Linked DNA regions of Homo sapiens. The protein of the gene in region 2 purifies or fractionates together with the protein of the main gene of each other region. This does not show direct contact. Each region holds a gene or a part of one and is shown on either strand. Other genes may lie near its edges.

Region 1 (7,717 bases), on a different chromosome or scaffold from region 2:
AGTCACAAAACCAAAGCCCCTGGAACGTTTTGTTTGGGGGTCTCTCATTACCTACAAAATAAAAAGTTTTATAACGTTGAAAACACCTCCACCGGTTCTCTACACCCCTTAGAACCCTTCTGTTCTCTTAGTAACTTACCACACAATCTGTGAGTGTGCCCCATTTCTCAAAATGTTCTCGTAAACTATCATCTGTAGTTTCAAAGCTCAGACCACCAATAAACAGTTTTCTCAACTGCTCTGGTTCCTTTGGATCATGGCCCTGAGAGAAAGAACCAATACTCTTAAGTTACCTTACAGTAGATGAATTAAGATGCACGAAGAGCCTTTAATGTACGGTAAGTAATAAAATCAACATCAAATTCCTGTGACAGTTAACACTTTGTCCAGTTAAAACTTTGACCAGACACCGGCGCGATGTCTCATGCCTGTAATCCCAACACTTTGGGAGGCCGAGGCAGATGGATTACCTGAGGTCAGGAGTTCGAGACCAGCCTGGCCAACACGGCGAAACCCCATCTCTACTAAAAACACAAAAATTAGCTGGGCGTGGTGGCGGGCGTCTGTAATCCCAGCTACTCGAGAAAGGAAAATCGCTTAAACCCAGGAGGCGGAGGTTGCGGTGAGCCAAGATCATGTCATTACACTCCAGCCTGGGCCATAGGAGCGAAAACTCCGTCTCAAAAAAACAAAACAACAAAAACTTTGACCAGAAATAAGACTTCAACTGTTAAAGGGGCTAACTTATGTCAAGGAAACCTATAACCAGCCTTTCAAATGCCAGCATCACTTCAACTAAATTGAAATCCAAGACAATTCCAGAATCAAAAAATCGCTTCATTTTTTAAAAGCTACAACTGTCTGAGAACCTTTACTTTAGAAGTTGCTAGTAAGTCATTTTCTAAGGCACTAAACTGTTGGAGAAGCAGTGTTGCATCTATCCCATTTCAACTCTTCTCAGTCTACAACCCAACATGCATTTAATTTTTTTGTTTGTTTTGTTTTTGAGACTGAGTCTCGCTCTGTCGCCCAGGCTAGAGTGCAGTGGCGCGATCTCGGCTCACTGCAACCTCCGCCTCCCGGGTTCACGCCATTTTCCTGCCTCAGCCTCCCGAGTAGCTGGGACTACGGGCGCCCGCCACCGCGCCCAGCTAACTTTTTGTATTTTTAGTAGAGACGGGGTTTCACCGTGTTAGCCAGAATGGTCTCGATCTCCTGACCTCGTGATCCGCCCGCCTCGGCCTCCCAAAGTGCTAGAATTACAGGCGTGAGCCACAGCGCCCGGCCCATACATTTAAACTCAAAACTGTGATGAAGAACAATCTAAAAGTTCTGAATGTCAAACTTACAGAAACTCACTGCTTTCAAGCAAATTAATTTAAAACAGGCATTCCTAAGCCAAACCAGCATTTCCCAAAAAAACTGAGGAAAAAAAAAAGCCGATCAAATAGCTTTCTATAACCCATGTTTGTTATATGCTGCAAAAATCTGCAATTTACAACTCAATTTTAAGAGTCACAACTAACTGGCAAGTTGGACTTACATTAGGAATGGTATGTATTGTCTGACTATAAGAACGGAGTACAGCAAAACAAAAATTGAGATTTTTAAGAATTAAGATGTCTTGAAATTGTTTTATACTTTAGTCAAGACTTTTTAACACATTGCATGAACTGTCATTTAATGCATGCATTAAGGTTTCCTTCACCCGAAGTTCTTAAATAAGGGGCTCACATTTACATTCTAATGTCTTCCTGTGTCTCCTAGAGGTAGAGATGTTAAACCGTTTAATGTGAAGAGATTGTCACATGCTAGAAAAAAACGTTAATAGCCTAAAGCATTAATTCATGTAATCTCATCTTTTCAAGTCTTGGATAAATGTATTCGATTGACAATAACGAAATCGACAAAAATATTTAGGATCCACATTAAATGTACTGCAAAAACGTGAAAATTTCAACTCTGGTTGCAGTCCTCTAAATAAAATTCCAGGAAACTACAACCAGAGCCGACTCAAAGAATGGGAAAACATGAAGATAAAAAACATTTCTAAATTCTTCCTTAACATACTATACTCAAATTCTTCTCCACCCACCCTCCTCAGCGGCCGGAGCCGGGAAGGAGCTGGCTGGGTTGTTTTTCACATCTACACTCAAATTCTCAAAAATTAAGTCCTTCGCCCACATGGCGGTTTAAGAAGTGTAATGTAAGTACTTTAGCAAAAATATATCAGGAAGTATTTTAAAGCAGCAAAGTTTTTAACAATCTCGTATTTCCAACAGGATGCTGCGAAAAAAAGAAAAGGCCAATTATCGACTTCTCGCGGAGAGGACCCGTAAAAGGCCTAGAAAAGCGTCGGCAGAACTTCAGCGAAAGCACTACCTCCCCATGCTTCGAGGCCATTTGCGGCTTTTTCTGCCGGGCCGCCTCCGCCCTCTTCCCTCCAATCCCAGGCTCGCTTTCCCGGCGGCAGAGCGAGGCGGCGGCCATTGCGGGCCAATGCGCCATTTCGTAACGCGGCGGCGGATCAATGTCAATGTGGCCGCCGCCCGCTTGCTCGCTCGCCCGGATGTGCCTGCTCGTCCCCTCCCCTCCCCCACCACCTCCTCCCAACCGCTCCCGCCGGGGCCCGCCATGCCGCCCTCGGCCTCGCTTCGGAGGCCGCGCAGCCGGCAGGCCGGCTTCCCTCCCGAGGCCTCCCCGACCAAGCCGCGCCTCCAAGGGGCCGCCTGTGCAGCCGAAGGTGAAGGCGAGGCGGGCGAGGGGCCCCAAGGAGGTCTCCAACTCTCGCTCCCCTCCCCCTCCCACAGCCTGTCTCAACGCAAGAGCGCGGGACGGCCGACCCGGTCCACCCGGCCTCCCCGCTCCCACCGAACCAGGCCCCCAACGCCGGCCATTCCCCACCAACCCCCCGCTCTCCCCCTAATACCTCCTCCCCCCGGCGGCGACGGCGACGGCCGGAGTCGGGCTGGGGGCGACCGGGCGGCGGTTTTACCTCCATTTTGAGACCGGACTCGCCTCTTCCAACTCGAGTTCAATATGGGACCGAGAGGAAGAGGCGGGGCCAGTCGTCACGTGACGCGTTTTCCGCGCGCCGCCAGTCTGTTGGGGGAGGAGCGAATTGGGAAGGGGGCGGAGCCAAGCGGGCGCGAAGAGGGACTGGACCAGCGGGTTGGCGGGCGGAGGGCGGAGGCGCGGCGTGCCGCGGGAGCGCGCGCGCCTCGCCAGCTTTCAGGGGAAGAGGGCCTTTGCCGCCGTTCGCGTCAGGGCGAGTTCCGGGACGTCAGTGCGGTCTCCGCCAATGGTGAGCGTCCACGTAGAGGGAACGCCTTGTGATCGCGCGTCACCAGAGAGAAAGGCCTTTCCCTTTCTTCTCGCGCTTGTCCCTCATTCCCCACGCAGGCCTCTAGTTCTCCATTTCAGAATTCATTCTATTCCTGTGCCCGAAATAAAACCCACGTTTTTCTTGCTTGTAATTTAAAGGTTGCAAGAAAAACTCCTCGGCCCCTCGGACCATCTTTCCTGTTTCCAAATGCCGGGGACCAGTGTCTGTGACTGCGCCGCCTGCCTGAGGGCATGTACTGAAAAGCCCTGCGACTCCAACATGTGGGACTCACAAGCACCTTGGACAGGCCTCAAAACGCGGCTGACATACAGAATTTTTACCATTAACGACCTGAGGCAGGACTGGTGGAGGTCAGTTCATTAGTTACTGATCTCAAGAAACAAGTCAGGACTATTTTCTAATGTGCTTCTTTCAAGTTAGTGTGGAAAGAGCTGATGCATCTGTTGTAGCTGACGGAATTTAAGGAACTGAATAATTGACAAGATTTCCAGAAAAGCAGGGTCGCCAGATAATGCTACCTGTTTGCGAATGATTGTTACCGTAATGCTCTAGAGAGCTAATCCTTTCTCGGCCTAGTCAGATGATTTTAAATCATTTGATTTTACAGAGCTTTAGTTTCAGTTTTTTAAATGAAAATGGGGATGGGATTAGGTCATCTTCTAACACCCACGACAGCCATAAATTGATAATCTATGGATCCATATTTAAAGTTACTGATAAAAATAACCACAATTGACCAGCCTCCCTTCCCTGTTAGGAAATGCTTTATATTTTAATTTAGCAACCCATGTGACCAACCCTTTTAGAATTGAACTGGCTCTCCCTAGGAAAGGTTAGAAATCTAATCAGTTATAGTAAGTTTCTGTTAACAAATGGGGAGTGGTCGACTTGGAGTTTGGAAAAGGGGAGCGTAAAGTCTAAAAGTTTGTTAATTTATCTAGCCGTTGCTCCAGGAGGACCTGTGTTATAGTTTGGAAACATTTACAAAGGGTATTTTTGTGGGGCAGAAAACAGTTAGCAGTCCTTAATGTAATTTGGTTGAAATAACCGTTCAAACCAGACTCCTCCTGTTGCTTTGATTCCTTTTTCGCAAACTTTCTTATGTTCTACGTATCCAGGTGCTCCTGATGGCCAGCAATAGACTTGAGACATTGGAAGAATGTATAGCCTTAGCGTCTATTTAGTGTTAAGATTTTGTAAGTCTAATTACTGTGAAATAGTCCTGGTAACTTTATCGATTCTGGATACAAAGAAAAATGCAAAGTGAAAGACCTTTGGAAATTGCTATTCACACCAGAGTACTCTATGAGACATTACATAGGTGATCAAGAAGAGTGATCACCTGGCTGCACTTTAGGGTATGTTTGTCCAGGTTTTTCTAATAAGTTAATTCTAATCAATAACTTTTGTTCTAATTAGTAACTTTTGTATAAATGTTAATGTTAAATCGCGAAACAATGTGGGATGGGATACTAAGTTCTCTCCAGGAACATGAAATGTCAGCCCATTTATTCACATCTTTTTGTCCTCCCTATTGTATTGGTCCAGATTTGTTGTTCATCCTGACTGTATGCTGTTTTTAGACATTAGTTATTTTTTATGCTTTTGTCTAAACAAGCTCTGGCCGGGCGCCATGGCTCACACCTGTAATCCCAGGCCTTTGGGAGGCCGAGGTAGGCAGGTCACCTGAGGTGGAGAGTTTGAGACCAGCTTGACCAACACGGTTAAACCCTGTCTCTACTTTTAAAAAAAATACAAAAATTAGCCGGGCATGGAGGCACACGTCAGTAATCCCAGCTGCTTGGGAGGCTGTGGCACGAGAATCACTTGAACTCAAGAGGCGGAGGTTGCAGTGAGCTGAAATTGCCCCACTGCACTCCAGTCTGGGTGACAGAGCGAGATTCCGCCTCAAAAAAAAAAAAAAAAAAAAAAAAGGCCGGGCGCGGTGGCTCACGCCTGTAATCCCAGCACTTTGGGAGGCCGAGGCGGGCGGATCACGAGGTCAGGAGATCGAGACCATCCTGGCTAACATGGTGAAACCCCGTCTCTACTAAGAATACAAAAAAAAAAAAAAATTAGCCGGGCGTGATGGCGGGCGCCTGTAGTCCCAGCTGCTGGGAAGGCTGAAGCAGGAGAATGGCGTGAACCCGGGAGGCGGAGCTTGCAGTGAGCCGAGATCACGCTGCTGGCTGGGCGCAGTGGTTCAAGCCTGTAATCCCAGTACTTTGGACGGCCAAGGCGGGCGGATCACCTGAGGTCAAGAGTTCGAGACCAGCCTGGCCAACATGGTGAAACCCTGTCTCTACTCAAAATACAAAATTGGTCGGGTGTGGTGGTGGGTGCCTGTAGTCCCAGCTACTCAGGAGGCTGAGGCTGGAGAATCGCTTGAACCTGGGAAGCGGAGGTTGCAGTGAGCTGAGATCGTGCCATTGCACTCCAGCCTGGGTGACAGAGCGAGACTCCATCTCAAAAAATAAATAAATAAATAAACTTAAGGTCCAGTTATGTCTCAGGTACAAAAACCACTTTTCCAGTCCTTGACCCTGTAGGGCACAGACTTGAACCTTGGCTATGGTCTGCACTTGCAGCCCTGACTCTTTGATATGAGAAAGGGAGTGTATGGGATGGGAGGAGGGAATGAGGGTCCTAGGGTGAGATGGGTGGCAGACAAACTTTATAATCTATATCAGGCCCTCTCCTTTATATCATGACATACAGAAAATAATCATTTTTGTACAGCATAGTAGGGTAAACTAGAAGATATTTGGAGGCATCTAAGTGGTGGTAATGTTTTAAGCATCTGATTTTGATAAAATACAAAGTATTAGGAATGATATTAAATATTGAATTTGCATAAAACTTTCAAATTAAAATTTTCCGTGTTTTTTAGTGATCAACTTGAACTTGTTCCTGTGAATACATTTTGATATTAGGTTTTATGGTTGAAGTGGCTTTATGCAGTTTCTGATCTAGACTTTTTTTTTCTTGAGACAGAGTCTCACTCTGTCACCCGGGCTAGAGTGCAGTGGCATGATCTCGGCTCACTGCAACCTACCACTCCTGGGTTCAAACAATTCTCATGCCTCAGCCACCCAAGTAGCTGGGATTACAGGCCCATGCTACCATGCCCGGCTAATTTTGTTTTTGTTTTTGTTTTGAGACAGAGTCTCTTGCTCTGTCGCCCACGCTGGAGTGCAGTGGCGTGATCTCTGCTCACTGCAACCCCTGCCTCCTGAGTTCAAGCTATTCTCCTGCCTTAGCCTCTCAAGTAGTAAGGACTACAGGCGTGCATCACCACGCCTGGCTAATTTTTGTATTTTTAGTGGAGACAGGGTTTCACCATGTTGGCTGGGTTAGTCTGGAATTCCTGATCTTAAGAGATCCGCCCGCCTTGGCCTCCCAAGGTGCTGGGATTATAGGCGTGAGCCACTGTGCCTGGCTGGAAGAAGGTAACTCATTTTGTTTGTTTTTGAGACAGAGTCTCGCTCTGTCACCAGGCTGGAGTGCAGTGGCACAATCTCGGCTCACTGCAACCTCCGCCTCCCGGGTTCAAGTGATTCTCCTGCCTTAGCCTCTCAAGTAGCTGGGACTACAGGCGCTCACCACCACACCTGGCTAATTTTTTGTATTTTTAGTAGAGACGGGGTTTCACCACGTCAGCCAGGATGGTCTCCATCTCTTGACCTTGTGATCCACCCGCCTCGGCCTCCCAAAGTGCTGGGATTACAGGCATGAGGGAAGAAGGTAACCCTTAAAAGGGAGGAATTGTAATAAACTATAAGCTTTGTTATGTGCCATTATATTCAGAATATACCAAAGCTTTATTTTCTAAAATCTTGATTTTTAAATAAGGAGTTTATAAAGTAAAACACACACAAAAAGTCTTTCCCCACAAAATCCTATTACATAGATTTGACCATGATCAACAACTTATTACATATCCTCTCACATTTTCTTGTTGGCCTAATCAATGCTTATATATATGAAACAAACATATTTGTTTTATTTTTACCAATGTATGTCTAACTATCCAGATTGATTTGAAATTTCCTTTCTCTTCCACTTAACAAAGTTATTTACCAAACTCTTACTATGTGCCAGGCAATGCTAGGTGCTGGAAATTCATCATAGTCACTCACATTATTGAATACTACTGTATACCTTGTAATGGGCCACGTACATTATGTTCCTGATTTCATTCCCTTAATAAACTTAGGAGGGTAAATTCTCCCTAATCTGGGATGTAGGAAAGTTGAATACATTGACTAAAATTATATAGGCCCTGCAAGTAAAGTGCTGAATTAGAATGTCATATAATCACTGTATTTACATTTTAATATTCTTGAAGGTAACAACCTTTTCTTTAAAAAT
Region 2 (7,394 bases):
CTGTAATCCCAGCACTTTAGGAGGCTGAGGCGAGTGGATCACCTGAGGTCAGGAGTTAAAGACCAGACTCACCAATATGATGAAACCCCATCTCTGCTAAAAATTAAAAAATCAGGCTGGGCACGGTGGCTGAAGCCTGCAATCCCAGCACTTTGGGAGGCCGAGGTGGATCACGAGGTCAGGAGTTTGAGACCAGCCTGGCCAACATGGTGAAACCCTCTCTATCAAAAATACAAAAAAATTAGGCAGGCATGTTGGCACACACCTGTAATCCCAGCTCCTTGAGGTTGAGGCAGGAGAGTTGCTTGAACCCAGGAGGCACGGGTTGCAGTGAGCCGCAATTATGCCACTGCACTCCAGCCTGGGAGACACAGCAAGACTATCTCAAAATAAATAAATAAATAAATAAATAAATAAGCCGGGCGTGGTAGCTTGCACTTAGTAATCCCAGCTACTCCGGAGGCTGAGACAGGAGAATCGCTTGAATCCCCAGGAGGTGGAGTTTGCAGTGAACTGAGATCACCTCACTGAACCCCAGCCTGGGCAACACAGGGAGACTCCATCAAAAAAAAAAAAAAAAAAAAAAAAAAAAAAAAAAAGAAGGAAATCCCAAAACCCGGGCAGGGCAGTTACCCTGGATCTCCACATCTGGTTCATGTCTCCAGAAGAGACAGGAGTCCCACTTTGGACACCTTGAGTTTGAGAAGCCTGGGACACCCAAAAAGCTTCCCAATGCACAGGTGACCATGTGGGTCAGGAGACACACCTGCACTCAAAGGCTTGGACTTTTAGCACATAAGGCTGATGACAGAAGAGACTGCACAGAGCAGTGATTCTCATCTTGGAGGAGGGTACCTCTCATCTCTAAGTCACTATATGAAATGAGATATCACTGATGGGAGTGAAGGTGATGCCACATCAGTGGTGTGGAGGACAAAGATACTTTGGAAAGAACCCTGGGTACGAGAGGAAAGAGTGAGGGCGAGGAAAAGAAAGAAACTGAGATGAGTCAAAAGGAAAAGAAAACCAGGAGAGTGATATCACAATTCCCCAAACTCCTATGCCCTTTTATGCTTCTCATGACTTTCTCCCTTCACTTAAAAAAAACTCGACTCATGTTTCATCCAGATCAAATGCCACCACCTCCTGAAAGCCTTTCTGGACTTACCCAAGTAAAACTTATTAGCCCCCTCTCCGTGCCTCTACAAGTTTCTTTTGTTGTTACTATTAGGTAAGATTTGACTCAGACAATAGTTTCATTAGTACTGTTAAGGCACTTACTGCAGTCCGCTCTGTACTACACCTGGGGTGTGTGTCTCCCCTATTACACTGTGAGCTCTTAGGTGGATTAAAAAATTATTCTTTCGCTGAATAAATATCCAGATGGGGTCAGGCACCCTGGCTCAGGCCTGTAATCACAACACTTTGGGAGGCTGAGGCAGGAGGACCACTTGAGCCCAGGAGTTCGAGACCAGCTTGGGCAAGACAGCGAGACACCATCTCTACCAAAAATACAAAAATTAGACGGATGTGGTGGCGCGTGCCTGTAGTCCCAACTACTTCGGAAGCCGAGGTGGGGGGATCACTTGAGCCCAGGAGACAGAAGCCGCAGTGAGTCATGATCGTGTCACTGCGCTCCAGCCCGGGCGACGGAGACCCCGTCTTTAAAAAAAATGTTTGTTCAAAAGTCCAGATTGGTAAATAATTAGGCAGAAACTATAGGTAACTCCTACACTCATTCTTCATTCTTCCTGTAAAACAAAATAACACATCCTAATTAATTCGATTTATAAATTCCGTTCCTTAAAGTAACACCCACCTGTCCAGTATTTAAAAATCACTGCTGACTAAACACAAATATTCGCTCCACAAAATGCCTATCCTGTCCCAACAATGATGTAAGCATTTCCTTCATCATAAATATAAAATGCCCCGAATTTAGTCGTAGACTTGACATATCTCGCTCTTTTCCAAATAATTGTAAATTCTGTACAAAACACACGCACCAAAAAAATGTCACCAAGATGCAAGAGGACGTAAGAGGGAGTCAACCTTGGAACTGGGCCAACCGCCGCCTGCATTACTGGGAAGCCACTGCTGCCAAGCAAAGGTCAGGCATTCATTCAGGCAACATTTTTTCCAACAAGTGCTTCACACTCGCACGCACACACACGCTCCTTTAAAAGTCAACAACAATTAAAAAAAAAAAAAAACCTCTCTAATGCCACTCCTGAAAACTAGGGCTGAAAGCTAAGTGCGTCCAACCGACAAGAAACCCAGGAAAGCTGAGTAATCCCCGAGTCCAAGTGGACGGTCACGCCAAAAGTCCACACGGGTGTGGCCCACCTACGGCGAAGCTGTATGGGAGAAGCCCGGGCTCCAGCCTCCCGGTTCGCCGAGCCCGCGTCCCCGCCGCCCCATCGGGAAGTCTCAGCGGCCGGGAAGGGGGAGGGGGCAGGAACGCCTCGGAGCCGGACGACAATCACTTCCCGGGAAAGCGGCTCCCAGACAAGCCGCCCCAGGGAAGGAAGGCGGCCGAGGGGCCCGGCGCGGGGCTGCCGCGCGCGCCGAGGCCGCGGTAACAAAGTTTGGAAACCGCGAGAAAACTTTTCCAAGAGGAAACGCGGCGGCGGCGCTGGGCCTATAGTTTCTCCTCCCCAGCCCAGGCGGCCCCCCGACTTCCCGAGCGCTGGGAAGCGCCGGCCGTGCCCGCCCGGGCCCCATACTCGGGCCCTGCGGGGGAAGGGACCGCCGGCCCGACGCGGGTCCCACGCCCGCCCGGGGCCCAATTCCCGGCGACGTCGCCAAAGAAACCGCGCCCCGCCCGCTCGCCCGCCCGCGGCTCGCGGGGCCCAGCTTGGGACGGCCCGGCCCAAGGACCCTCTCGGCCTGGCCCGAGAGACCGCGCCCGCGAGGAGGGAGGTACGAAGTTACCTGCGGCTAGCTGGGCGAGCGCTAAATTCCAGAGGCCCGAAGCAGACGGGCGCTGCTTTGTCTCCCTCCAGTCCGGCTAGGAGGAGGAAATGGGCCGCCCCACGCCCCCGCCCCCGGCCCGCCCCCCGCCCGCGGCCCCCGCCCCTGTCCCGGCCCCGCCCGCCCTTCCTGGCACCTCCCTCCGACTCGCTCTTCCCGGCGCCTCCCGCCGCCGCCCCGCCCGCTCCTCCCGGCCGTTCCGGCCTCCGCTTTTGGGGAAAGGGAAGGCCCCCACCGCGAAGAGAGTCTGGCAACGCCGGACCGGGACCCCCGAGGGACCTCTTCCTCCCCGCCGCCCACCTCAGAATTCCTTCCTCCCCGGCCCCTAGTGGGAGCTTAGGCCGGGAGTGACCCCTGAGAGGGAGGAGGAGCGGTGACTCCTGGAACAGCCCGCGGGCGGAGAGGGCTGCGCGAGGGCAGGTGAGTCACCGCTCCGCGCACAGGTGAGGCTCAGGGGCGGCCTCGCGCGGGCCCCCACCCCGGCGGAATCCCAGAGACGCGACCAGGGGTACTGGGCACGCTCCCCTCAAGAGTGTCACAGGTGTCCCGGAGTCACAGTCTTCTGGAAAAGTGATCTAGGCCAACTACCTGGCTTTACAGAAGGAGAAGCGGAGGCTAAGGAAAGGCCCCACAGCTTCGGGACACAGTGGAACTAGAATCTGACTCTCAGGACCTTTCATAATGTGAGGTGGAAGCGCCCCTAGAATTCACCTAACCCGTCCCCTCACTCCACAGATGGAAACACCCGAAGCCCTCTTGATCAAGGACTTTTTTTTTTTTTTAAGACGGGGTCTCCCTCTGTCGCCCAGGCTGGGGTGGAGTGTCGCGATCACGGCCCACTGCAGCCTCAAATCCCTGGACAACCGACCCTCCCACCTCAGCCTCCGGAGTAGCTGGAACTACAGACACAGAGTCTCACTATGTTGCCAGGCTGGTCTCAAACTCATGGGCTCAAGAAATCCTCCTCAGCCTCCCAAAGTGCTGGGATTACAGGCTAGAGCCACCTTGCGGGGAGGACATTTACAAACACAAAAGAGGCACCGCAGCAGCTGTCCCTTTTTGGGCTTGTTCCCGCCCCGCCCCCAGCACGTCCCCCCTCCCAGCTTGTCCCCCTCCTCCAACAAATTTGAGGGACCTGACTTCTATCTCTATTCCTCTGGTCATTTGGGGCATTTTATTCTTACCCTTTCTTATCTTCATAGTGAATACTCCAAAAACAAAAGAAAACAAAATTACAAAGCAAACAAACAACACAAAAAAACAAAAACTACTACATGCTCACTATCATCCTGGTATAGAAAACCCTAATGATGTTTCCCCTGCTCACGGGATGATGAATAAGATAGATTTCAGTATTGGCCTATAAACCTGAATAATGCAAGACGACGATGTCCACTGCTGGCCTTGTGCTGAATAGAGAGCAGGGTGCTAGGGAGACCTGCCCTTACCGTGTTTACCCTCTACTCCTCACATCTCCCTCTCCCCCAAGGGAATATAAACTTCTGGAAAGCAGGAGCTGTATCTCCTGCAGCACCCAGCACATTGCCCATCCCCTAGGGAGTGCCTAGTGAACATCTGTGGGTGAATGTGCCCACTGTAATTCAAAGTACTGTGGGCCTGTGCTAGTTAACAGATGCTGACAAAGGGCAATAGGACCATGAAGTGGGGAGAGAACAACCTTTAAGAAAAAGAGGATGGGCACAGTGGCTCACACAAGTAATCCCAGCACTTTGGGAGGCCAAGATGGGTGGATCACATGAGCTCAGGAGACCAGCCTGGGCAAAATGATAGAACCCTTGTCTACAAAAAAATACAAAAACATAGCTGGGTGTAGTGGCACCTACCTGTAGTCCCAGCTACTTGGGAGGCTGAGGTGGGAGGATCGCTTGAGCCTGGGAGTTCAAGGCTGCAGTGAACCATGACTGCACCACTGCACTCCAGCCTGGGCAACACAGTGAGACTCTGTCTCAAAAAGAAAAAGAAAAAGGCAAACCCTGACAAGGTCATTCTTGTCCAACTACCCCTGTCCTGTTTCTGGCTGCAGGGTCTTTGCTCCTGTAGTCTCCTCTGCCTAGAGTGGCTTTGGCGTCCCTCTACTTCACCTGGCTAACTCAGAACATAATTCATATATTTTGGATATTTGTCCCTGCCCAAATCTCACATTGAAATGTAATCCCCAGTGTTGGAGGTGGGGCTGGTGGGAGGCATTTGGGTAATAGAGGAGGATCCCTCATGGCTTGGTGCTGTCCTCCAGGTACTAAGGGAATTCTCATGAAATGTAGTCGTTTTAAAGTGTAGCACCGGCCAGGCACAGTGGCTCACACCTGTAATCCCAACACTTTTGAGAAGCCAAGGTGGGCGGATAGCTTGAGCCCAGGAGTTCGAGACCAGCCTGGGCAACATGGTAAAAACCCATCTCTACAAAAAAATACAAAAAAATTAGCCAAGCAGGCTGGGCACCGTGGCTCACGCCTATAGTCCCAGCACTTCAGGAGGCCAAAGCGGGCAGATCATCTGAGGTCAGGAGTTCAAGACCAGCCTGGGGCAACATGGTGAAACCCCATCTCTACTAAAAGTACAAAATTAGCAGGGCATGGTGGCATGTGCCTGTAATCCCAGCTACTCGGGACGCTGAGGCAGGAGAATCATTTGAACCTGGGAGGCAGAGGTGGAGCCGAGATCACGCCATTACACTCCAACCTTGGCAACAAAAGCAAAAGTCTGTCTCAAAAAAAAAAAAAAAGCCAGGCATGGTGGTGTGTGCCTGTAGTCCCAGCTACCTGGGGGGCTCAGGTGGGAAGATCACCTGAGCCTGGGGAGATTGAGGCTGCAGTGAGCCATGATTGTGCCACTACACTCCAGCCTGGGCAACGGAGTGAGACCCTGTCTCAAAAACAAAAAGATGTGGCACCTCAGCCCCCTCCTGCTCCTGCTTTCAGCATGTAATGTGCCTGCTCCAGCTTCACCTTCCACCATGAGTAAAAGTTCCCTGAGGCCTCTCCAGAAAGTAGAGCAGATGCCCAGGCCTTGCTTATACAGCCTGCAGAACCATGAGCCAATTAAACGTTTTTTCTTTTTTCTTTTCTTTTTTTTTTTTTTTTGTGTGTGTGTGTCTGTGTGTGACGGAGTTTCACTTTTGTCACCCAGACTGCAACCTCTACCTCCTGGATTCAAACGATTCTCCTGCCTCAGCTTACCAAGTAGCTGGGATTACAGGTGCACACCACCACGCCCGGCTAATTTTTGTATTTTCAGTAGAGACGGAGTTTTACCGTGTTGGCCAGGCTGGTCTCGAACTCTTGACCTCAGGTGATCCGCCTGCCTCAGCCTCCCAAAGTGCTGGGATACAGGCATAAGCCACCGCACCCGGCCTGTTTTTTCTTTATAAATTACACAGTCTCAGGTATTTCTTTTTAGCAGTGCAAGAACAGCCTAACACAATAGTAATCAGTCAATAAAGTATTTGGATAAAGTAACAAGAGACAGAGTTAAAGGATTATGCTCCATAACTTTGTATATTCATCATTTCACTCGGGACAAGATTCTTAATTTTAAGGCCCCTTGTTCAAAAACTATTAACCATTTTAAGACAGCAACAGCAGAGTATTAAACCAAGCATGGGCTCTTTCTTTATTATTATTATTTTTTTATTTTTATTTATTTATTTATTTATTTTTGAGACGGAGTCTTGCTCTGTCACCAGGCTGGAGTGCAGTGGTGTGATCTCGGTTCACTACAACCTCCGCCTCCTGGGTTCAAGCGATTCTCCTGCCTCAGCCTCCCAAGTAGCTGGGACTACAGGCGCCTGCCACCACGCCCAACTAATTTTTGTATTTTTAGTAGAGATGGGGTTTCAGCATGTTGGCCAGGATGGTCTCAATCTCTTGACCTTGTGATCTGCCTGCCTCAGCCTCCCAAAGTGCTGGGATTACAGGTGTGAGCCACTGCGCCCAGCCAGCATGGGATCTCTCTAAGCATGGGACCCTGAAGATGAAATTACAGGGTTTGTTTTGGGAAAAGAAGGGTAAGGTGACAGGAAGATATGAGAGATTTGCAGTGTGCCTAAAGAGAGTCAGTTTCCTACTCCTGAGAAATCGTGAAAAGCTTACCAGGGAAGGCTGGAGCATTCTCTATATCCCAGGCACTTGCTGTGTGCTGAGGAAGTGAATAAAAACTGAGACTGACTTGATCCCTGTTTTCACACCACTTAAAGGTAATGATGAAGACAGATACTAAAACAGGTAAACTGACTGGGCACGGTGGCTCATGCCGGTAATTCCAGCATTCTGGGAGGCTGAGGCGGAGGATCGTTTGCGTTCAGGAGTTGGAGACCAGCCTGCACAACATGGCAAAACCCTGTCTTTACAAAGGATACAAAAATTAGCTGGGTGTGGTGGCATGCACCTGTAGTCCCAGCTATG
Region 3 (7,022 bases), on a different chromosome or scaffold from region 2:
AAATATGAAGATATATGTGCATATATTATGAAGCAGCAGAATACTGTATGTGTGAAATAGAAACTCAGCTTGCTTCTAGAACCCCCTGTCAAAACAGATGCATCTGCTTTTGATAAGTACTTAGGTGGAAAAGTACTTTTATCTATTTATTTATTTTGAGACAGAGTCTCACTCTGTCACCATGCTGGAGTGCAGGCAGGATCTCGGCTCACCGCAACCTCTGACTCCCTGGTTCAAGCGATTCTCCTGCCTCAGCCTCCCAAGTAGCTGGGATTACAGGCAAGCGCCACCACGCCCAGCTAATTTTTGCATTTTTAGTAGAGACGGGGTTTCACCATGTTGGCCAGGCTGGTCTTGAACTCCTGACCTCGTGATTTGCCTGCCTTGGCCTATGCTGGGATTACAGGCGTGAGATACCGTGCCCGGCCGAGAAGTGCTTTTATTTTAAATATGTCAGGTAGGTAGGTGTCCTGGTGTTTGTCTTTTGACAAAGGCTAACTAGTGTTCCCAATACAACATTGTGGTTCTCAAACTTTTTCTAAAATGTGGACTAGGCCGGGCGCGGTGGCTCATGCCTGTAATCCTAGCACTCTGGGAGGCCAAGGCGGGTGGATCACTTGCAGTCAGGAGTTGGAGACCAGTCTGGCCAACATGGTGAAACTTTGTCTCTATTAAAAATACAAAAATTAGCCAGAGATCACTTGAACCCAGGAGGCGGAGGTTGCAGGGAGCCAAGATTGTACCACTGGACTCAAGCCTGGGTGACAAAGCAAGACTCTAAAAAAAAAAAAAAAAAAAAAAAAAAAGAATAAAATACAATAAAATAAAATATGGACCAAATGACCAGACCCCCCTCATGCTACAAAATTTTAAAACTATCAACAACTTGGATTTCAAGAATTCTAGAGATGAAGTCAGCCACTATTGACTATAAACACAAACTTCAAACTTTCTAACATGTATTTTTAGAAACATACTTACCATTTTCAAATTACATTAGCTTATCTTGTTTTAGGATGCTACAGAATGTCAACTTTATTTTCGTGAAGAGCACACAAAATACTCACATTCTCATATTCTTTCACTTGCTGAATGTATAAGCTCTACTAGAAGGGCTGTGTGTCAGATTATAAATAATACGGCCACCATCTTTATATTTCCAGTTTAATGTTCAGTAGTTGAATTAGATATTTGAAGACTATAAATCTGGCATAAAAAAATAGGTAAGATCCTGCAATGTTCAGTTTTTTAAGAAGTACTTACTGGTTTAAGAGCTAACTCAAACAATCTGAAAGTGCAACCCCAATTATTACTTTTAAGGTTTGAAGTCTACATACCTTAGTTTCTGTTATCATGCCATCAAAAGGACAAGAGTACACTGCTATTTTTGCATCTTTGACAGATGTTACATCACCTTCGGTTTCCTTCTTAAAAACCATGCCATGCAATACTGAAGAGGAACTGATACCAGAGCCCTAAGGAATTGAATACCAAACTCATCAGCAATCTCCTGAAAATAACATTACGGTCAAACTGTTGATTCTCCATATACCAAAAATATCCCTTTCTAAAATAAAGTCATAAACCAAGGCAGTGACTCCTGGGATAAGGGGTGGAGTGGTGGACATACAGCACACCCTTCTGCTCGAGGCAGAAATCACTGAGGGAATGAGCTACTTTTAGGGAGGGGAGGTCCTTCCATGTACTGGGAAGAACCAAAGGCAGAGAACTGGTCTTAGCCATTCAGTTACCTAGTACTTGGTGCCAATATACCAGCCACAGCTGTCAGTACTGCAAATACAACACAGAACAAAGCAAAGATTCTGTTCTCACAAGGTTGCATTTAATGGGAAAAGCTGGCAGTACGTGGAGGGAGACAGCAAACATAGAACACGTGAGTATCTTCAGGGAAAGCACATGTACTTATGTTATGCTAAATTCACATTAACAATCAGAATGCCAATGTGCAAAACCAAAACCATTCCACTGATAGGTTTTACTCTATCAAGCACATTTTATCAAAAATATACTTTAATATTTCAATACTAACATTAAAGTGTGAATTCTATTATTGAAGAGGAATAGGACGATTTCCACCCCACTCAAAACTGTCTTATAAGCTTATTATAATTCAGAGTATTATGAAGAACACAAAAAAATTAGTATTTTGCGCTGGGCGCGGTGGCTCACACCTGTAATCTCAGCACTTTGGGAGGCCAAGGTGGGCAGATCATGAGGTCAGGAGTTCGAGACCAGCCTGGCCAACATGGTGAAACCCTGCCTCTACTAAAAAAATACAAAAATTAGCTGGACATGGTGGCATGCACCTGTAATCCAGCTACTTGGGAGGTTGAGGCAGGAAAACCACTTGAACCTGGGAGGTGGAGGTTGCAGTGAGCCGAGGTCGAGGCACTGCACTCCAACCTGGGCAACAGAGCCAGACTCCATCTCAAAAAAAAAAAAAAAAAAAATTTAGTATTTTGTTTATACATTATTCTTAAACCCACAAGACATCACAGAAAATGACTTTATAAGGAGATAATATGTCAATATCCTTTTAAACTTAAATAGGTAGTAGTATTATTACAACTTAGCAACATCAAAATGTTACAAAATAATGCCTCAAAGGCCAGGCACGGTGGTTCACGCCTGTTAATCCCAGCACTTTGGGAGGCCAAGGCAGGTGGATCACCTGAGGTCGGGAGTTCGAGACCAGCCTGACCAACACGGAGAAACCCCATCTCTACTAAAAATACAAAATTAGCCGGGTGTGGTGGCGCATGCCTGTAATCCCAGCTACTCGGGAGGCTGGGACTGGAGAATCACTTGAACCGGGAGGCGGAGGTTGCGGTGAGCCGAGGTCATGTCATTGCACTCCAACCTGGGCAACAAGAGCGAGACTCCGTCTCAAAAATAAATAAGTACATAAATAAAAATAATGCCTCAAAAAAAGTCCTAAGTGTTCAAATCATGAAGTAACATTTAGGTTTAGATGAACACATTTTTTTTTTTTTGCACAAAAAAACAAAAAAAGCACACAAAAAAACTGACCTAGATATGTAGCATTAATGCATTTTCTACTTACCAGAATTTTACAAACTCTGATGTTATCAACATTGAAATGGCCGGAATCAGGAAAAATAGATACTGTTAAGAAAATGAGACATATCAAAAGATTATTTTGGGACAACAGAGAAAGTATCTAGTCATGTTAAAGGTATTTTTATTTTGGATCTTTTCATTTACTGATATTTACTTACCGCATGCCTGAGCAATAAGCTTGGCCAGAAATACTTCATTACCATATTGTTTACTCATTATGGAGGTACGAAGTAGAGATGAGACTTCATCAATATCTCGAAGGTTTTTTGCAGAACAACATACCAAATTAGGAAGAATCTCATGAGCTTTTCTGCAGGCTATTTCATAACCTTCTATGACCTAAAACATAAACAACATTTCCTATTCTGACATGACTTAAAGTAGCTTATTTTGGTAACCCAATGCATATGGATGTTTATTTTTGATACAAAATGACAAAGAATATACTTCGGAATAAAACATATAGTAGACTCTACTAGTTATGAATGGAGGCTTAGATGACAGCCCAAATTTGAATCTTAACTCTACCTAACTCACTAGCTATGAGATCTTGGGCAAGATTTTTCTAATTTTAGTCTCTTTTCTCATCTAAAATAAAGTGGGAAAAAAAATAGATAAAATGGGATTATAAGGCCTCACTAATAGGGTTTTTGTGAGACTAAAATGATACAGCATGTGAAGCATATGTACTATAATGGCTGGTACAGAGCAAACTGCTCAGTGCATGTTAGCTACTACTATAATAATGATTTTAGTTTATGTTTTAAGCAGGTGTATATGTAAGCAAAAATTTAGTAGGAGTAAATTATAAATGAACACTTGCCTCTGAAACTGACAGGCCAATCCTCAGAAGTTCTTCAGCTAATTCCAGGAGAGCTCCAGCAAATACCAGAACAAAGTTTGTGCCATCTCCAACTTCTTGCTCTTGCATATGAGAAGCCATTACAATCATTTTTGCAGCAGGATGCTGTACCTAGTAGAAAAGGTAATATCAAGTTAAACATCTGATCCTTAAAGCAACATAAAATTGTTCATTTCCATTTCTTAAATAGACTCAATTTTCTTGTAGATTAGGTAACTCCATCTGATCACACTGCTACACTGCTATACGCTACTTATAGTGTGGTCACAAGAAAAAATCCAAGTCCCTTTATGCCGATCAGCACAAATGTATCACTATAAATAAGAATTTCAAAGTGCATCCTCTTTTGGTGGCCTGCACATACAGTGCCACACATATGTTTCACCATATCATATTTCACTAAATTAAAAAACAAAGTAATTACAACCACCAAACCTAGATATTTTTTAAAAGCCTTCAGGAGAACTAAAATAGATACCACTTAACTTGGTCATGACTCTCAATATCTATTTTACTATATATTCTTGTTGTAAGGGTTATCATTTGTGATTTAAAGAAAAGGGGGAGTATAAAACTTTTCTTCAAATATAACATAATTTTATGTGGATTTTATTCTTAGGATTTAATTTTAGATACCTTTACAGAAACAAGCCAAGGAGTAAGAACTGAGAGCAACAAGAAAACTATAAAAAGTCAGCCCTGTGATTTTATTATTTTGACGGTATCACCACTGTACTTTAATAACTCCTGAGATCATCAGTGTGCAACATTAACATTCACAGTGACAAACCCTTGTACAAGTGTTTTGTGGAGTTAAAATTTAACTTTTAACTTAAGTTCTTTAAGAATTTATATATATAATATGTATTTTTTTTTCTTTTTTGAGATGGAGTCTTGCTCTGTCGCCCAGGCTGGAGTGCAGTGGCGCGATCTTGGCTCATTGCAACCTCCGCCTCCCAGGTTCAAGCAATTCTCCTGCCCTAGCCTACTGAGTAGCTGGAACTACAGGTGTGTGCCACCACGCCCGGCTGATTTTGTTTCTGTATTTTTAGTAGAGATGGGGTTTCACCATGTTGGCCAGGCTAGTCTCAAACTCCTGACCTTAGGTGATCCGCCTGCCTTGACCTCCCAAAGTGGTGGGATTACAGGCGTGAGCCACCGCGTCCAACCAAAAATATATTATTTAAGAGGTTAGAAAAATGTTGATTCTTCTATCGTTTCATTTAAAACAAAAGATTAAGTTCTAGTGCTTTCAAGGGCTAAGCTTCAGGAAAATTCCCTGAGGTTGAATATGTTATCCTTTAATTACAAGGCGGGAATGAGGAATGGCTCTCTCTGCCTGTTCAGGTGCCAGACCTTCCTTATAACCCTGCTGGCAGGCAGTATCTATTTTATAGATTCTAATAGTAAAACTAAAGCTGAACAAAGTAAAATGCCATCAACTGATTGTTTTTATTTTCACAAAACCAAATGGTTGGATCTTTTTAAAAACCACTGTTATATGTATACGTTTTTGCACTGTGGAATAATTCACTTCAGAGTCACCCTATAGAATGAAGACAATGGTAATCAATTTCATATCGTAATTAGCAATGTATCACAACCAATCCCTCCATAAATTAATAACTTGAGAGATTTTTAAGATTTCAGTGGCTAAAACATTCAATCTAAAGAGGACTCTTTATAATTAGAACAATCTGTACAATAAATTTTCAAGCTGGAAAAATAGTCCCTTATCCAATCTGAAATAAGAGATTTCTTCTAGTTAAAATCTACTTAATTTTGATGTCACCAAAATATTTCTTGACTTTTTAAAGAAACAACTTACTTCTAGTTCTCTTAAAATAGTTGCTGCATCGTTTGTCACAAACAACTTCTCCAAGTGGTTGATAACCATTTTGTTCATTCCTCAAAAGTAACAGTTAAAAAAAGAAAAAGAAAGCCATTATTAATCAAATCCTTCCCCAAATACCCAGGAAAATCTAGTTAAGAAATTATAAATTTGTATATTAAAAAAAGAGCTTTGCAAGAAAACACATACTATCTATTCTTCAAGTTTATCTTATAGCCCCATGGGCATTCTCTGACTGCAGACCCATATTCTTTCTTCCCTTTCTAATGTCCTACAATATTTACTACGTAAGATGCCAAATCTCACATTTTTGCCAATTTCTATCTTCTGTTTGCAACATGACTGTCATGCAGCAAGTGCTCAACAGAAATTAACATGTAAAAAGGCCAAAATAATCTACTTAGTATATTTAGTTGTATGTTTATTCCATGAAACTGTATCATTTAAATTTAATTGGTGGTAGAAGGCAAGAGGAAGGAGAGAATTTTCTTCCTTAAACTATGTCACTTTTATATTTAGTGTTTGTCAGAATGAACATTAGGTACTATCTTACTAGTCAAAGTGTTATAATTTTTCTATCCTCTCAACAGGATAAAAAGTAATATATTGACCCCCATTTTTCTAAAGAGATGTGAGTTGATTGAAAATTAGAAATAACTAAAAATTGGAAATGAACTATCATTGAGCTATCAAATTAACTTCCGAAGTCATACCATAACATCCTCAGAACAAGTCTGAAAGAAGACGTAGTACACAATATTCTACTACTGTATCTTTACAAATATTAATTTAGAAATTACCATTTGGTCCATATGCTGTACGAGTGGTTTGGGCAAGCTCCTTGCAAGCTTGTATGTTTCTATACACAGCCTCTTCTAATCCTGAAAAGTGCTGTTAAAAAAAACAAACAAAAAACCCCGCTAATTAGACAGGACAGTGAAACAAAAATTTCAAATACAAGATATCTTTGCTTATATCTTGCCTCTAATAAAGAGGGAGCATAGCTTAGGTATTTGGCACAAGAGGGCTGGTTGCAAATCTTAGCTTTCTGGCTCTTTTTAAATTTGGGCAATTTTCTTAACATTTCTTCATTATAAAATGAAGTAATTATAATAGTACCTAACTCATAGGATTGTTGAGACAATCAAACAAGATTTTTTAATGTAAAACACAGCATTTGATATTCATAAATGATGCATACATTTC
Region 4 (6,953 bases), on a different chromosome or scaffold from region 2:
AGCTGAGGATGAGACCCCTCCCTGCTCCTCCTTCCCGCTCTTCCTCCTTCTGAGCCCCTTCTGAGACTACCTCAGGTGAGCAGCCCTATTTTATGTTCCCTGGAGGTGTGTCCGCCCCTCAGCACAGCACAGCCAGCTGGGCAAAAGGGTTTTTCCTTTGCCCGTAACTGAGCAGATGGGCTCATCAAGCCCTCTGCCATCAGACCATCACCTGCCTTAGAACACAAAACACTCGACTCTCCCCCCAGTCTCTCTGACCCGGGGAGCAGCGGGCTGACTGCCGGTTCTAATGAGTGCACAGTTTCAAGTTCACATTTGGGGAGCACTCACCTATTACCAGGTGCTGGGGATAAGCACCCAAATAGGACACAATCCCGGTGGGAAAGGAGAGGAGGGTTGTGAATGAGGTCTGTATAAAGTGCCCTGGGAGCTCAGAAGAGGGAGTGGAGTGTAGAGACAATGAGATCTGGGTGGCTCTGCCAGGGCTCTGCGCACAGGCGAGGAAGGAGAGAGAAGGAAACACACAAGGTGGAACAGCATGGGCAAAGTCCTGAGGCGTGAGGCTGCAGGGCTTCACCACGACCGCCCCTGCCAAGCTGATGGCATCGTTTTCCTGCCCCATCCTTGGGTGTCTCACGCTGTGGGGAGGAAGGAAAAGGAAGTCTTATTTGGGGAACCCCTGCTGTGTCCCGACTCAATTACAGCAGGGCAGGAAAGCTCCCTGGGTAAGGAGCTGGGCTCTGGAAACAGAAGCGTGGCTCGGAATTTCCGCCCCACCACTGACAAACTCTGATCTCAGAAAGGCTTTCACTCCCAGCCTCTGTTTTCCCATCTGTAAAATGGGCCTAACAGTAGTACCACCCCCGCAGGGTTGTCCTGAGGTTTGAATGAGGAGTCCCAAGGAGAGCTTAGTGCATTAGCAGCAGACACAAAGGCTGTGGTCCTCAAATGTAACAACACAAACACGTTTCCTGGGGAGCTACAAACACATAAGTCCTGGGATTCTATCACCAGCCATTCTGACCCCATCAGCCTGGAGTGGGGCCCAAGAAATCTGCATATTCACTCCCCCTCTCCCAGGATGGATGGCTTGAAGACCACACTTTGAGAAACAGCCACTCGATAAGGCTTGCTGGTCCTGTCATTTATTTTCATTGTCTCATTTCATCTTCCAAACGGCCTGCAAAGTCTGAACAGATAACTCATTTCACAGGTGAGGAAAGAAGCTCAGAGAGGCAAGTCGGCTGCCCAGGTCATGCAGGCAGCAACGGGTCATGCTAGGATCCAAACCTGGGTCTGCAACCCCCACACCTGTACCTCCCCAAGCAGCGCTCCCTGTCGGGTCAGGCTTCCTCCTGGCAGAGGCCAGGTGGGCGTCCCCAGGCCTTGTCGTCCCACCCGCCATCCCACCCCCACTGCCTCCACTGTTGCTTCCTCCTCTGCTACTAATCTGGTCTCACAGACCATCCCATTTCCTGCTAGCCCACCAGCCGCCTTCCTTGCTCCCAATGACACTTCCTGGCCTTGTGCCCTCCTGTTACCTCCTTTGCCTCCAGAGAGGTTGGAGCAGAGGCTGGGCAGTGCCAGAAATCAGGCATGAAATCCTCAGGGGGACCAAGGAGGCACCAGCCTCCCTCCCACAGTCTCAGCTACCTCTGCTACGGTGACCCCCAGCCCCACCCCTGGGGCCCACAGCTCATGCCTGGCTCACCATTCCTTTGTTTATGGACCACAGGAACAGTCGTTTTCAGGGCAGAGTCAACTTCCTCATGGACTGGGAGTACAAAGGGAATTGGCAGATGGTGCCAGGACAGGCCCTGTCCCCATCTGCCACAGCCCCGAGTCTGAGACCCAGCAGGAAGCAATGCACAGGCCAGTGTATCCCCATGGGCACGTAGACCATGAGGACAGGCGGGGGTGAGGGGGATGTGGACTGGAACACAGGGGACAGAGCACTGTCCTGGCTCCTCTGCGGCCAACCCCCCCTCTGGGCAGGAGAAAGCAGAGTTAATCCCATTGGAGAAGGAAGCGCTGAGCTGTTGTTTGTTCATTCCACAATCGGCTGTTGAATGTGTTGGATCCCACTCAGAATTCCGCCCCAAGGACTGTTCTCCTTCCAGCAGGTCGCTCCTCAGTCTCCAGCATCATCTGTCTTCCCGTCTGCTGGATGCTCCCTGGGGACATGAGCGTGCTGCCATAGTTAAAAAAAAAAAAAAAAAAAAAAAAAAAAAACCCTCCCACTTCTCTGCTCCCATTCACTGTAAGACTTGGGGAAGAAGCTACAGTCACACGTGACTCCACATCCCCGTCCCCCTTTCTCCCCTTTCTCTAGCCCCTCCAATCTGTCTTGTCTACCTTTTCCTGTTTAACCTGTTCTGGTCACAGTCATTGATGACCTCATCTTCCAAATCCAAAGTTAAGTCTCAGCCCTCATGCTCCCCAGGCTGACCCACTGACTACTCCCCTGCCCTCCTCCTCTGCCCTCTCCTGGCATTCCTCCTTCATCATGGGACCCTCTTCTAATGGATCCCCAAATGTCAGAGGGTCCAAGTCCTCCCTCCCTCCAAGCTCATCCATGCCCATGGCCTCAGATGCCAGCCATAAGCTGTTGGGTTCCAAACCTCGACTCCAGGCTGGACTCACCCCTGTCTCCCCCACCAGCCTGACACCTCCACCTGGGTATCTAACGAGCATCTCAAACTCAACCTGCCTGAGACAGAGGAATCACTATCCCCTCCTCCTCCAAAAATATCCTTCCATCACACTCCCCATCTTGTGCTCTGATTTACTAAACGGCCCTGGGCCCTCTCTTTCTCAGGGTCTCTGCTTGCCCAGCTATATAATAAAACAAGTTTGGGACTTCCCAACCATTCACCCATGGAAAAACAGAAGCAACTCTTCAAAGGACAGATTCCCAGGATCTGCCCTGGGAGATTCCAAATCAGTTGATCTGGGGTGAGCCCAGTCCTCTGTAGTTTTTAGAAGCTCCTCCTATGTCTCTCCTGGTCAGCAGAATCTTGGCCCCTCCCTTCCCCCCAGCCTCTTGGTTCTTCTGGGCTCTGATCCAGCCTCAGCGTCACTGTCTTCCACGCCCCTCTTTGATTCTCGTTTATGTCAAAAGCCTTGTGAGGATGAGGCTGTGATTATCCCCATTTTACAGATGAGGAAACTGTGGCTCCAGGATGACACAACTGGCCAGAGGTCACATCAGAAGCAGAGCTGGGTCACTTGACTCCACCCAATATCCCTAAATGCAAACATCCCCTACAGACCGAGGCTGGCACCTTAGAGCTGGAGTCCATGCCCGCTCTGACCAGGAGAAGCCAACCTGGTCCTCCAGAGCCAAGAGCTTCTGTCCCTTTCCCATCTCCTGAAGCCTCCCTGTCACCTTTAAAGTCCATTCCCACAAAGACATCATGGGATCACCACAGAAAATCAAGCTCTGGGGCTAGGCTGACCCCAGCTAGATTTTTGGCTCTTTTATACCCCAGCTGGGTGGACAAGCACCTTAAACCCGCTGAGCCTCAGCTTCCCGGGCTATAAAATGGGGGTGATGACACCTGCCTGTAGCATTCCAAGGAGGGTTAAATGTGATGCTGCAGCCAAGGGTCCCCACAGCCAGGCTCTTTGCAGGTGCTGGGTTCAGAGTCCCAGAGCTGAGGCCGGGAGTAGGGGTTCAAGTGGGGTGCCCCAGGCAGGGTCCAGTGCCAGCCCTCTGTGGAGACAGCCATCCGGGGCCGAGGCAGCCGCCCACCGCAGGGCCTGCCTATCTGCAGCCAGCCCAGCCCTCACAAAGGAACAATAACAGGAAACCATCCCAGGGGGAAGTGGGCCAGGGCCAGCTGGAAAACCTGAAGGGGAGGCAGCCAGGCCTCCCTCGCCAGCGGGGTGTGGCTCCCCTCCAAAGACGGTCGGCTGACAGGCTCCACAGAGCTCCACTCACGCTCAGCCCTGGACGGACAGGCAGTCCAACGGAACAGAAACATCCCTCAGCCCACAGGCACGGTGAGTGGGGGCTCCCACACTCCCCTCCACCCCAAACCCGCCACCCTGCGCCCAAGATGGGAGGGTCCTCAGCTTCCCCATCTGTAGAATGGGCATCGTCCCACTCCCATGACAGAGAGGCTCCTCGAGGGCACGCTGGGCCTCCTCGTGGCTCAGAGCAGGGTCGGGGAAGGTGCACCCAGAGGTAGTGCCAAGGGCACAAATGGGCATCTCGGGGCTGAGGGGGGCAGGGCAAGGGCTTGGCTCTCCCAGAAGTGTATTCTCCAACTCAAAAAGGCCCACTGGCCTTCATCAGTGCCAGGCTCAGAGAGGGCAGTATTCTGCCCCAGTTGCCCAGCATGCCGGGGCAGAGGACTGGCACCCAGGCCTTGGCCTCCCCTCGGTGCCTTACCCTTACTGGAGAGGATTTACCAAGGCCTGACACCAGCCTCCTCAGCCCCCTACCCATACGCCACTAAAGCTCTATGCTGGGATCTGGGGAGGGGCCCTGAAAAGGAAGCTCCGAGCCTTGGCCCCTCTCGGTCAGCCAGTGCCCCCATTTCAGGATAGGCAAGCTGAGGCTTGGCTCTGGGCACTTGAGGTCTTGCCTTTCCCTCTGGGCCTTTCCCTGCCCAAACACCATCGGGGCCCACTATGTGTCAAGGGAGCTGTAGTCTGGACAGCGGTCCACCATTCCTCCCACCAGCACCCTTTCAAAGGCTAGAGCATAAGAGCCCCAAGGCCCCCACAGCCCAGGAAGTCCCCCAGAAGCAGGAGGTCTGGGCCAAGAGCCTGGCCTGGAGACAGCTGCCCTGGGTACAGATCCCAGCTCTCCCATTTGCTCTGGGGTGACCTTGGGAAAGTTACCCAGAGTTTCCAAACCACAGTGGGGAACAAGGGATGGTGTGGGGCTCATTATTTTACCATTAACAACTCCACAAGGTAGATACATTCTTTCTTTATATCTCAGTGAAAGCAACTGAGCTTTGGAAACATATGAGCTGGTGTGGGGATTTGAACCAGGATCTCGTACTCCAAAGCCCCAGCTCTCCCCAGGTCTCAAGTGTCTCATCTGTGAAATGGGGAAACAGTGTTTCCTCAGTCAATTGAGTGAAGTGAGCTACATCCCTGGTGCTGGGAATGGCACATAACATGAGATCTTTAAGGAATAGTGGCTGGATTTACCAGCTAGCACAGAGCCGATCCTGGTTGTGAATGTGATAAAGATTTTGGCCCTTGAGGTATGGTCAAACCCCATCACGGAGGGGTCCTCAGGTGCCCAGCAGGTACGAGGAAGGGGGTGCAAGTGAGAGGACATCGCGAGCACCTCTGGGCCTCTGCTCCATGTCAGGCTCCCTCCCCAGCGTGGACGTTTCTCATGTGTGATGGGCAGATAGGATTCTGACAAGAGAGGAAGGGCATTCCCAGGGAGGCAGCTTTGAGGAGTCGAGGGTGTACCTGGAAGGCTCTTTTGCCACAGGCCACTGGAGCCAGGGCCAGAAGCCCTGGTCCATCCTCAGGTGGTGGGAAGCCTGGGACTCTCCTCTGCCTGCCCTAGAGAGCAGCAGGTATCCACCAAGGGGCCCAAGAGCTGCTGAGCCCCTGAGCAGCCCTACCAATTTCAGCTTATGGTGGTGAGGGGTAGGGGAGGTGTATACTGGCCTGGAAGGGGTTAAGCTGCCCGCCTGCAGCCTCAGCCTGAGCTATTGTGTTGCCAAACAAGGGCCGGACATGAGGGCAGGAAGCCAGCAGGGGCCACACATTTTCTGCAAAGTTGGATGATTCACTGCTGACTTGGGGACACCCAGGGGACAGAGGGGACACCATCCCAGGAAGAATCTTAGGCTCATTTTGCCCACATGGACCCATGACTGTTCCCTGTATCCTCTCTCTGCACCCCCTCAGTCACACTGAAGCAACTATGAGAATTCCCATTTGACAGATGGGACCATCGAGGCTGAGGGAAGCTGTGCAGCCAGTCCAAGGTCACACAACCAACACAAGGTAGAAGCAGGGTGAGTGCGGTTCCTTCTGACCCACAGTCCATGCCACACTCCACAGTGAAGCTCAGAGAGGGGGAAAGCAGAGCAGTCCAGGCCACAGAGGCAGGCACAGGGACAAGCCAGGAGCCCAGTGATACCAGGGGAAGGAATGTTCTAGGAGGCAGGGCCTCAGGAGCTTCACCTCTGGCTGAGGAGATACTAAAAAGTCTGTCCTGATCCAGGTTCAAGCTGGTGTTAAGTGGGTAAATCATGGAGGGCTTGCTGGAGGAAGAGTGGGAATCCCAGATGCTAGGAGGCCTTGGGCAGCCCCTCTGCAGCCTGCACCTCAGTCTTCCCATCTCTTGAGAGTAGGGGATGGTCCCTAAACTAATTCAGGGATTTCCAGGTTGTCTGCCTTGGACCATAGCAAAACAGTCAGATCCTGGCAGGTCCAGATACTAGAAGGAGGAGGAAGTGGGACCCAGGGGCAGGCCGGGCTGGTGGTGAATGAGATTTCCTTCTGCAGAGGAACAGAAAGAGTAGGAGGTGGGCCCAGAGTAGAGCCAGGAAATGAGGTCAAGCGTAAGTTGGCCAGTCAAAGCCACACCCACCAGGCTGGAGAGGGCGGGTAGATAGGAGTCAAGACACCTGCACCCTTACTGAGCACCTACTGTGTGCCAGGCTTTGCACCCATGATCTCATTTAATCCTCCTGCCCAGGGAGGCAGCTATTGTTGCCTCCATTACAGATAAGGAAGCTGAGGCTCAGCAAGCAAGAGATGAACCCAAGGTCACACAGCTCCCGAGCAGCTGGGCAGGTTCAAATAGGCAGGTGCAAGGGCCTCATTCTGTTCCCCGCACTGCCCTGACAGTCCCAGACAAAGTCAGGAAGCCCAGAGGAGTCTGGAAGCCTCCTTAGCATGGGTGTTCTCTCCTTGAAGTTTGGAGCTGTCCCTTTAGAAGGCAAGGGGATAGACTAGATGACCCG

Evidence for each region.
Region 1: the proteins of CTNNA1 (region 2) and HNRNPA3 purify together in Homo sapiens (co-immunoprecipitation; 2 studies listed by BioGRID and IntAct, with this or other methods). This does not show direct contact.
Region 3: the proteins of CTNNA1 (region 2) and CCT8 purify together in Homo sapiens (co-immunoprecipitation; 2 studies listed by BioGRID and IntAct, with this or other methods). This does not show direct contact.
Region 4: the proteins of CTNNA1 (region 2) and CDH5 purify together in Homo sapiens (affinity purification with western blotting; 5 studies listed by BioGRID and IntAct, with this or other methods). This does not show direct contact.

The regions. Positions count from the first base shown.
Region 1 is NC_000002.12:177,208,084-177,215,800, reverse strand, and holds the start of HNRNPA3 (heterogeneous nuclear ribonucleoprotein A3), read right to left. Parts: upstream 3,008-7,717; 5' UTR 3,002-3,007; coding exon 2,930-3,001; intron 263-2,929; coding exon 140-262; intron 52-139; coding exon 1-51. UniProt on the Homo sapiens protein: Plays a role in cytoplasmic trafficking of RNA. Binds to the cis-acting response element, A2RE. May be involved in pre-mRNA splicing.
Region 2 is NC_000005.10:138,749,051-138,756,444, reverse strand, and holds the start of CTNNA1 (catenin alpha-1), read right to left. Parts: upstream 3,021-7,394; 5' UTR 2,935-3,020; intron 2,923-2,934; exon of another isoform or gene 2,347-2,922; intron 1,752-2,346; exon of another isoform or gene 1,282-1,751; intron 1-1,281. UniProt on the Homo sapiens protein: Associates with the cytoplasmic domain of a variety of cadherins. The association of catenins to cadherins produces a complex which is linked to the actin filament network, and which seems to be of primary importance for cadherins cell-adhesion properties.
Region 3 is NC_000021.9:29,063,631-29,070,652, forward strand, and holds part of CCT8 (T-complex protein 1 subunit theta), read right to left. Parts: intron 6,708-7,022; coding exon 6,617-6,707; intron 5,873-6,616; coding exon 5,793-5,872; intron 4,076-5,792; coding exon 3,926-4,075; intron 3,442-3,925; coding exon 3,261-3,441; intron 3,148-3,260; coding exon 3,086-3,147; intron 1,476-3,085; coding exon 1,338-1,475; intron 1-1,337. UniProt on the Homo sapiens protein: Component of the chaperonin-containing T-complex (TRiC), a molecular chaperone complex that assists the folding of actin, tubulin and other proteins upon ATP hydrolysis.
Region 4 is NC_000016.10:66,362,754-66,369,706, forward strand, and holds the start of CDH5 (cadherin-5 preproprotein), read left to right. Parts: upstream 1-3,937; 5' UTR 3,938-4,005; intron 4,006-5,889; exon of another isoform or gene 5,890-5,999; intron 6,000-6,953. UniProt on the Homo sapiens protein: Cadherins are calcium-dependent cell adhesion proteins. They preferentially interact with themselves in a homophilic manner in connecting cells; cadherins may thus contribute to the sorting of heterogeneous cell types.